Regions from separate parts of the Homo sapiens genome. Here region 2 is reported to be linked to region 1. The links are microRNA targets in miRTarBase. Many come from high-throughput screens and were not tested one by one. Region 1 holds a microRNA gene; the other region holds the end of a gene's coding sequence.
The links. The annotated mature microRNA hsa-miR-19b-3p reads UGUGCAAAUCCAUGCAAAACUGA and lies in region 1 at 1,292-1,314, opposite strand. An mRNA with a match to its seed (bases 2 to 7 or 8) in the 3' UTR can be bound and repressed. Matches are read on the target gene's strand: a 7mer-m8 pairs with bases 2 to 8, a 7mer-A1 pairs with bases 2 to 7 and ends in A, and an 8mer does both.

Region 1 (4,256 bases):
TAGACTTCAGACAATATTTTTAAAAGCTGATTTCTAGATTTATTGGGTGGTCTAACCTAGTGTTATGGAAGTTTATTTCTTATTACTAAGATAGCCTCTTTTACTCCAAAATACAATGACATTTCTCAAAACTTATCTTTCAAACATCAAGTTTGCCTGTACTTCAGCTTGGGCCCAATTTTACCACTTGGTCCTTTTAAATCTATTATTCAGGTATCCCACATTATTCTACACAAATACACATAGGCTAGAGACAAAAACACATGAAGAAAAGAGAGAAGGCAGAAATGCTGGGTAAAACACTAACTGCCACTTCTTAGTTTCCACTTCAGTGACTTTAAGTCAAATAAGCCTGGAATCAACTATCACTGTTGCCAAAGTCTGGCTTACGTAGGGAGTAGGGAACATAAATGTTAACTACAGACTTAGAAATAAATGAATATCTGAATCTCACCCCACCGCTGCACTCTTGGCATTTGGGAAGAGTGTACACATACATTTAACTGTTACTCTATTTAGCATTTGTTCTTTTTCTAACTCCCATTTTTTTAAGTTGCAGATGCTAAAAGCAGTCTGAGGACCTTGGTCATTTATAGCTTATAAATCACTGACAATCAGAAAGAAAAACTAGTATACAAGCATTTAACAGTTACACTTCAGTTACTCATGTATTGGTAAACTGGTACTTGCTTAATAGAAACAAATTGTACCCCAACCCTAAATTCCATGCTTAAAAAAACTCATCTTTACACATTGCTTTAAACAGAGCGGCATTCTCTCTAAATTTAAATACTTGAGTAATATATGAGCAACATAAATTAACTTTTAGATTAAGTAAAATATCCTGGAATAACACTAACTCCAAAGAAAGCAAAAAGATATACTCTAACTTTACAGATGATCATCAGGTATACAGTATGTTTAGTCATATCGCAATACTTAACAGCCAAATAAATCTAACAACAAAAAATATAGCCAGAATTTATACTGCCAAATCTGACACGCAACCCCAAAAGTGAAATGTTTTTGAATGAAAACAAGACAAGATGTATTTACACAAAAAGTTACACATTTTCTTTAATATTTCATGTATCTTGTACATTTAACAGTGGAAGTCGAAATCTTCAGTAATATTTAATTTTCAAAATCTTCTGGTCACAATCCCCACCAAACTCAACAGGCCGGGACAAGTGCAATACCATACAGAAACACAGCATTGCAACCGATCCCAACCTGTGTAGAAAGGGGTTTGAGTTTCCCTTACTTTTCTACAGACTTTTCACTACCACAGTCAGTTTTGCATGGATTTGCACAGCAGAATATCACACAGCTGGATGCAAACCTGCAAAACTAACCATAGAACAGTGTTCAGTAACAGGACAGTTTGATTGGGCGACAGGCCGAAGCTGGAGTTCTACAGCTAGCAGTACTTTAAGTGCTCATAATGCAGTAGATAACTAAACACTACCTGCACTATAAGCACTTTAGTGCTACAGAAGCTGTCACATCAGATAGACCAGGCAGATTCTACATCGACACAATAAAAGTACACAAAATTAGTAAAAATCATTCATTTGAAGGAAATAGCAGGCCACCATCAGTTTTGCATAGATTTGCACAACTACATTCTTCTTGTAGTGCAACTATGCAAAACTAACAGAGGACTGCAAACAAAAACTATTAAAACACCTATATACTTGCTTGGCTTGAATTATTGGATGAATACATAACTTCTTATGCCAGAAGGAGCACTTAGGGCAGTAGATGCTAATCTACTTCACTATCTGCACTAGATGCACCTTAGAACAAAAAGCACTCAACATCAGCAGGCCCTGCACTTTAAAGCCCAACTTGGCTTCCCGAGGCAGCTGTCACCATAATGCTACAAGTGCCTTCACTGCAGTAGATGCACATATCACTACCTGCACTGTAAGCACTTTGACATTATTCTGACTGGTCACAATCTTCAGTTTTACAAGGTGATGTTCTCTTTTTTCCTGCTAAATTTGAAATAGATAATTAGAATTAACACCTCAAACTCTAACAACTATAAACCATACAAATTCAGCATAATCCCTAATGGGGAAGAAAAAATTAGTTTAATTATCTCAAAGATATGAGGTCCATTTAGACACGTATTTATGCCTTAAGAATTCTTTACAGAAGGCAATCATAACCAACCATCCAACTAGCACTGGAAGTGGTGGCTCTTCCAATGGCTGGCCTCTCCCAAATGGATTGACACATAGAGAAAAAAAACAAAACAAAATGAGACTGCAAATAAATGAGAACTAATTTTGGAACATTTAAAGGCAATTTAGTCCATGTGTACCTTTTAGAGGAAATCTTCACATCCACGTGGCAAAACATTTTCCTCCTCTTCTGGCTTCCACTTAGCAAATACTTGTTGAAATGATTAACAAAATTACTGTTCAGACTACACTTCAAGTGTTATCAGTCAATTGTAGCAGAACGTAAATATCCTGTTTAAATCTATCATCTCAGGTTATATCTACTTTATCACCCAACTTAAAAGAGGGTCTAAAATTATATTTCGTAAACTGCATAAGCCAGTTTCCAAAAATGTACAGGAATATTTACACTGTAATTTTACTACCTTAAAATTAGCAAATCCGTACTTAATGAGTTAGTTTTTCAGAAAAGGTACATTGTCTAAAGAAAGAAACACCTACTTTTACTCTCTAAGAAACCAATCCTATTTATTCAACTTTAATAGCAAGAAAAATTTGTTTTTAAGAAAAGTTCAAGAAAATCAGAATACACTTACCCATTCCAGAAAACTTCCTTTTCAGCAAGTATTCTCAGAAAAGCTACTGGTGCAGTTAGGTCCACGTGTATGACTGGAATAGGGAAAAATAAGGAAAAAAAAGATAAAACATTATTTGCTCAAAATTACTACCACCGTCCAAATCTATATTTGCTATTTTCCAACCTCCTAACAGCAATTAATTCCATCCATTTGTGAGAGTAAGAGTCGAGCAATACTAGCAGGATTTAAAAGCCCAATAATTTACAGTTGAAAAATACGTAAGAGAATAAAGTTGAAAAATCCTTAGCTATCAGATACATGTCTAAATAAGCTCCTAAAATACTTGATTATGATCAGCAGCAATCACCGACTCCACTGTACAGCTCCAGTAAAAGGAAAAAAAAAAAGCAGCCCACAGACTATTCTTCACCACCCCTCCCCCAATCAAGACCTCGTGGCTGCAAGCCGGGATAAAGAGTTGTTTCTCCAACTGCTGTGGTCCTGATGGCATGCCGTTAATTTTCTCTTTTGGTGATATTGCAACGACGAGCCTGCCTTTTTCAGTTCCTTTTCCCTTTGCTGCAGTTTAGGAACAGAAGACCGGGCAGGAACACCCGAGACTGCAAAGTGCCCGCCACGCTCATGGAGCCCGGGCCGGCAGCACATGTCGCACAAGGGGGAGCGCGGCCCTGCGATTCTCCGCGTAGCCGCCAGGGGGCGGCGGGTCAGAGTCAGGCCCCGCCGGACGCGGCAACCCCCCCAACCCGTTTCCCGGCGGCAGCCGCGCGGCGACCGGCGGCGCCGAGGCCCGAGTGCGGCGGGGACGCGGGCGCGCCGCCCCTCCTTTGTGTCCCCCAGCCCCCCCGAGCCCGGCCCAGAGGGGCGGGGGCTCCGCGGCCGCGGTGCCCGTCGCACGCGGCCCGAGGCCTAAGCCGGGAACAATCGGCGGCGGCGCGCAGTCGCCGCCATGTCCCCCGCCCTCACCCCCGTGCAGCCCGCCCCGCAGGAACATGGCGGCGGGGACGCCGCTCCCGCCGAGCCGGGCTGGCCCTCCCGCGCCACACTCCCAGCAAGCGGCCGGGCGCAGGCGGCTCCACGCCGCGGCTGAGGCCGACTGCGGCCTCCTCCGAGGGCCACGGCGGGGAAGTTGCGGGCCCCGCCCCGAGGCTGCCCACGCGGGCTAACAAAGCCCACGCGGAGCGGGGGTGGCGCCCAGGCCGCGCCGATCTCGGCGCCCCTCCGCCCACCCTCGCGCGTACAAAGTTTGGGGAACCGCGGGCTCCCGCCCACGCCACGCCGCCCGCTGGCGCGCAGGTACCTCGTGGGCGCGCCCCCTCCCGGCCCGCGGCCTGCCCCATGTGCCGCCGCCGCCGCCGCTTTGTTCTGGAGGCGCTTTAACTCTCGCCCTCGGGAGAAACTTTCCTACCCAGAGACCCCACGCCCCGCGCGCGCCCCGGGCCCCGGAGAAGGCACGGGCCTCGCACGT
Region 2 (4,256 bases), not on the chromosome of region 1:
GCTACAATAGGTAAAATTGCCCACAGAACTACATCTAGTGAGAAGTTGAGCCATTATTCAAACCAAAGGCCACGTTTTTCCTAGGATTACAAATAATTATACTACGTTTTTTTAAAAGAAGATGTGGAGAAAGAGGCAGGCAGATTCGATCCAATGCCAGCTTTGTGAGGAAAGGGTTTACGATGCTGTCCAAGAGAACTTTTTTTATTTTTTGAGACAGAGTCTCGCACTGTCGTCCGGGTTGGAGTTCAGTGGTGCGATCTCGGCTCACTGCAACCTCCGCCTCCCTGGTTCACGCGATTCTCCTGCCTCAGCCTCCCTAGTAGCCGGGATTACAGGCGCACACCACCAGACCCGGCTACTTTTTTGTATTTTTAGTAGAGACAGGGTTTCACTATGTTGGCCAGCCTGGTCTCGAACTCCTGACCTCGTGATCCGCTCGCCCTGGTCTCCCAAAGTACTGGGATTACAGGCATGCGCCACCGCGCCCGGTCCCAACAGAACTTTTCTACAGTGATGGAAATGGACTAAATCTACACTATCTAATATGGTAGCCATCAACCACATGCAGCTCTCGAGCACTTTGAAATGCAGGTGGTACAAGTAAGGAACTTTTTATTTTAATGAAATTAAATAGCCACATGTGAGGTGATGCTTTTATATTAGACAGTGCAGGAGACCTTAATCCCTACTGGTAAGAGTAATAGGAGGGATCAGGACTAGGTTTGTCCTCTTCCAGCCACACATTGGCATCATGTTTTCTGCACTGACCATTCACACATATTTGAGCAAAAAAAACTCCAGCAGTGATCCCACACTTGTTTTAATTACAATAGAATAAGTTAACCAAGAAACAAGTTGGAAAATGGAAGGCCCCTCCCAGGTTTGCACCCAGAGGCAGGGAGAGGTAGACCCTCACCAGAAAGACCTCCAGTAATAACACAGATAGCCACCTACTATTTTGGTTTTTTTTTTTTTTTTTTTGAGATGGAGTTTCGCTCTTGTCGCCCAGGGTGGAGTGAAATGGCGCGATCTCGGCTCACTGCAACCTCCGCCTCCCAGGTTCAAGCGATTATCCTGCCTCAGCCTCCCTAGTAATTGGGATTACAGGCGCCCACCATCACACCCAGCTAATTTATTTTTAGTAGAGATGGGGTTTCACCACGTTGGCCAGGCTGGTCTCAAACTCCTGACCTCAGGTGATCCACCCGCTTTGGTCTCCCAAAGTGCTGGGATTACAGGCGTGAGCCACTGCACCCAGCCACCACCCCACTATTTCTTAAGGACTTATTATGTGTGAAGAACTGTAGTAAGCTTTGCATATATTACCTCGTTTAATTTTCATCTCAACTCTATGAAGCACACTTAGCCACTCTTCATAAATGAGAAATGGTGGCTCTGAGAAGTTAAGTGACCGCCCAAGGCCACACAGCTAAGTGGAGGAGCTATTAACCACTATCACTACTGTCCCCAGGCCTTGAGATTATTGATAAACTAGAAAACTTTAGATGTTTCTAAGTCTACCCCAGACCTCATGAAAATGGCAGCAGGAAGGTAGGCTCATGTAATGAGTATCCCAGGTCAGATGTGCAAAAAGACTTAATTTTAACATAAGGAGAGACAGTGGTGACCTACCAGAAGAACCTCCTAAGCCAGTGAGATTGTTGTTTGGAGTATGTTTCTTCTAGCAGCCCTTATTTCTTTTTAGATTCTGGATCAGAAAAGCAAAAGCAGCTGTCAGGACTTTTGAAAATCAGCATGACAAGCCATATCCCCAACTGTAAGCCTGGAGCCAGGCACTGACAAAGTCACAGCTAAAAATCACATCTAGGTTTTGTCAATCCTTCCCAAGTAAGTACATTGATAGGGTACCTCGGGCTCCCCCAGTTGTCAGAAGAGGTCTGTACCTTCTCTGTGAAGATCTACCATTCAAATAACCCTTACACATCCTTGGAGGAGGTATTAGACTAGTTAGGCAATCAGGCTGGTGGGAGGGTGGGGATCAAGAAAAGCAGAGGCAAACAGGACCAAACTTTCCTAGCTGAAATATCAATTCATTGAGGCGGTAGGCCCATAAAAGCAGAACCAATAGCCTTTGACACCTAAAAAAAAGTAGCACACCACCAAAGGTGTAAAAAGTACAAAAAGATTAAAGGTATGAAAACAGCAAAGAACGGCCATTTTAATGGAAGACACTGGGGACATGGAGGGCCAGGGGACTGATATGCACCGGAGGCATTATTTCTTACTTTACTCAACACTCTTGGGAAGTCAAAGTCTTCACAACACTTTAGTCTCTGCCTCTACACTCCTTCTCAATTCTTACATCATTAGGAATGAGGGGCTTCCTTTCTTCTCCTGAAACCCCATCATCTTTGAATCCAAGCAAATGCCGAGGCCCCAGGAAGACAGCTAGGTCAGCATGTTGCAGTTGGCCACTAGAGGGTGGTGTTTCTGTAATTAAGGGGATCTTGAAAGGCTACAAAACTTGGATGGGAGTGGCAGCCAACTGGACTTAGTATATGAGGAACCCAGCAGAATAGAAAGGTGGGAAAGGCAAGTAGTAAATCTTAGGATAATGGTCCTTAATAAGTGAGGAATAAGGAATAGGAACAAGGTAGGAGGAAAGATATCCCACCAAAGACCACAGCCATCACTCCTTGGAAAAAGAGATCTTGGCTCTGAGCTCTCACTAGATACATAGAAGTCAACAATAAAATAAGGCCGGGGGCAGTGGCTCACGCCTGTAATCCCAGCACTTTGGGAGGCTGAGGTGGGTGGATCACTTAAGGTCAGGAGTTCGAGACCATCCTGGCCTAGGTGAAACCTCATCTCTACTAAAAATAAAAAAGTTAGCTAGGCATGGTGGCGGGTGCCTGCAGAAGACTGAGGCAGGAGAACTGCTTGAACCTGGGAGGCGGAGGTTGCAGCGAGCCAAGATTGCAGCACTGCACCACTCCAGCCTGGGCAACAGAGTGAAACTCCGTCTCACACACACACACGAAAAAGAAGTCAACAACAAAAGATTTCTCAATTTATTTGCATATATACATTGTCACCCCAGGGAGCCAGCTCTATTTCAGAAGTCCCCGGCTCCCCTTACCCAGCCAACACCCAAAACCCACCCAAGAGGATGGGTCCTGGATAAATAATGCCCAGGACTCATATCCTGACCCCATAGGTTATAACAGAATTCATCAAACAAAAACAGAGGGCTAGAGGCCAGTGTCCATGAGAGGTCCTTGCCCCTTTGTAAACATTGACATCCAGGCCACTGGAGCCTGGGGAAAGTGTGCAAACATGAGGATGCCACACTGTGTGTCCAGGGGCCAGGAACACAGCTGGCAACCATACCCGTGAAGTCCTGAGGATCTGCCCCCCACTGGAACATGGCAAGTGCCGGGGGCAGAAGCAAGGCAGTTACCCCACACCCAAGGGCTCACATGAGATGGCAGCGACGCTCTTGCCCATAGGAATTCTCCACACGGGCAATCTCCTGGATGACTTTGGTGAAGATGCCTTGAGTCAGCTATAAGAGGAGAGGATTCAGGGCAAAAGTCAGTTCAGTGCCAATACCACCCAGCTCTGGGGTGAAAGCCCCATTCCCGCAACATTCCCACCACCAAGCAGTACAATAAGGAAAACACAGCTACCATCACCACCCTTCTAGTCTTCAGGCCCAGCACCTGATTCTCTCGAGCAGATGACTCCATAAATGTCGCACCCCAGGACTCTGCCAGCTTCTTTCCTTCAACTGCCTGTACCTCTCTGGAAGCAAATTTGGGACATAAAGATGGAGGATAGAAATGTCAGTAAGTGCTCTGAAAAATCTTCAGAATCAAGACTTCCTGGCCAGGCACAGTGGCTCATGCCTGTAATGCAGCACTTTGGGAGGCCGAGGTGGTGGATCACTTGAGCTCAGGAGTTCAAGACCAGCCTGGACAACACAGGGAAACACCATCTCTATTAAAAAAAAAATGGGCCACACGCGGTTGCTTGTGCCTGTAATCCCGATACTTTGGGAGGCCTAGGCGGGTGGATCACAAGGTCAGGAGATCGAGACCATCCTGGCTAACATGGTGAAACCCCGTCTCTACTAAAAATACAAAAAATTAGCTGGGCGTGGTGGCACGCGCCTGTAGTCCCAGCTACTTGGGAAGCTGAGGCAGGAGACTCGCTTGAACCCGGGAGGCAGAGGTTGCAGTGAGCCGAGATCACACCACTGCACTCCAGCCTGGGCAACAGAGCAAGACTCC

Region 2: the mRNA of RHEBL1 is a reported target of hsa-miR-19b-3p. Seed matches in the 3' UTR shown: 8mer at 3,292-3,299.

The regions. Positions count from the first base shown.
Region 1 is chr13:91,348,303-91,352,558 of GRCh38, reverse strand. MIR19B1 (microRNA 19b-1) reads right to left here and starts at 1,367; the gene lies at 1,281-1,367. It overlaps MIR17HG (miR-17-92a-1 cluster host gene), which reads right to left. Exons shown (of 3, transcript NR_197388.1): 2 at 2,789-2,861; 3 at 1-2,403. MIR17 (microRNA 17) reads right to left here and starts at 1,954; the gene lies at 1,871-1,954. MIR18A (microRNA 18a) reads right to left here and starts at 1,808; the gene lies at 1,738-1,808. It also overlaps MIR19A, MIR20A and MIR92A1. RefSeq lists enhancers at 2,739-3,286, 3,287-3,834 and a silencer at 3,384-4,256.
Region 2 is chr12:49,061,664-49,065,919 of GRCh38, forward strand. RHEBL1 (RHEB like 1) reads right to left here. Exons shown (of 8, transcript NM_144593.3): 7 at 3,687-3,768; 8 at 3,013-3,529. The coding sequence ends at 3,440. Among named protein-coding and RNA genes, the nearest start is that of KMT2D, 3.0 kb to the left of the region's middle.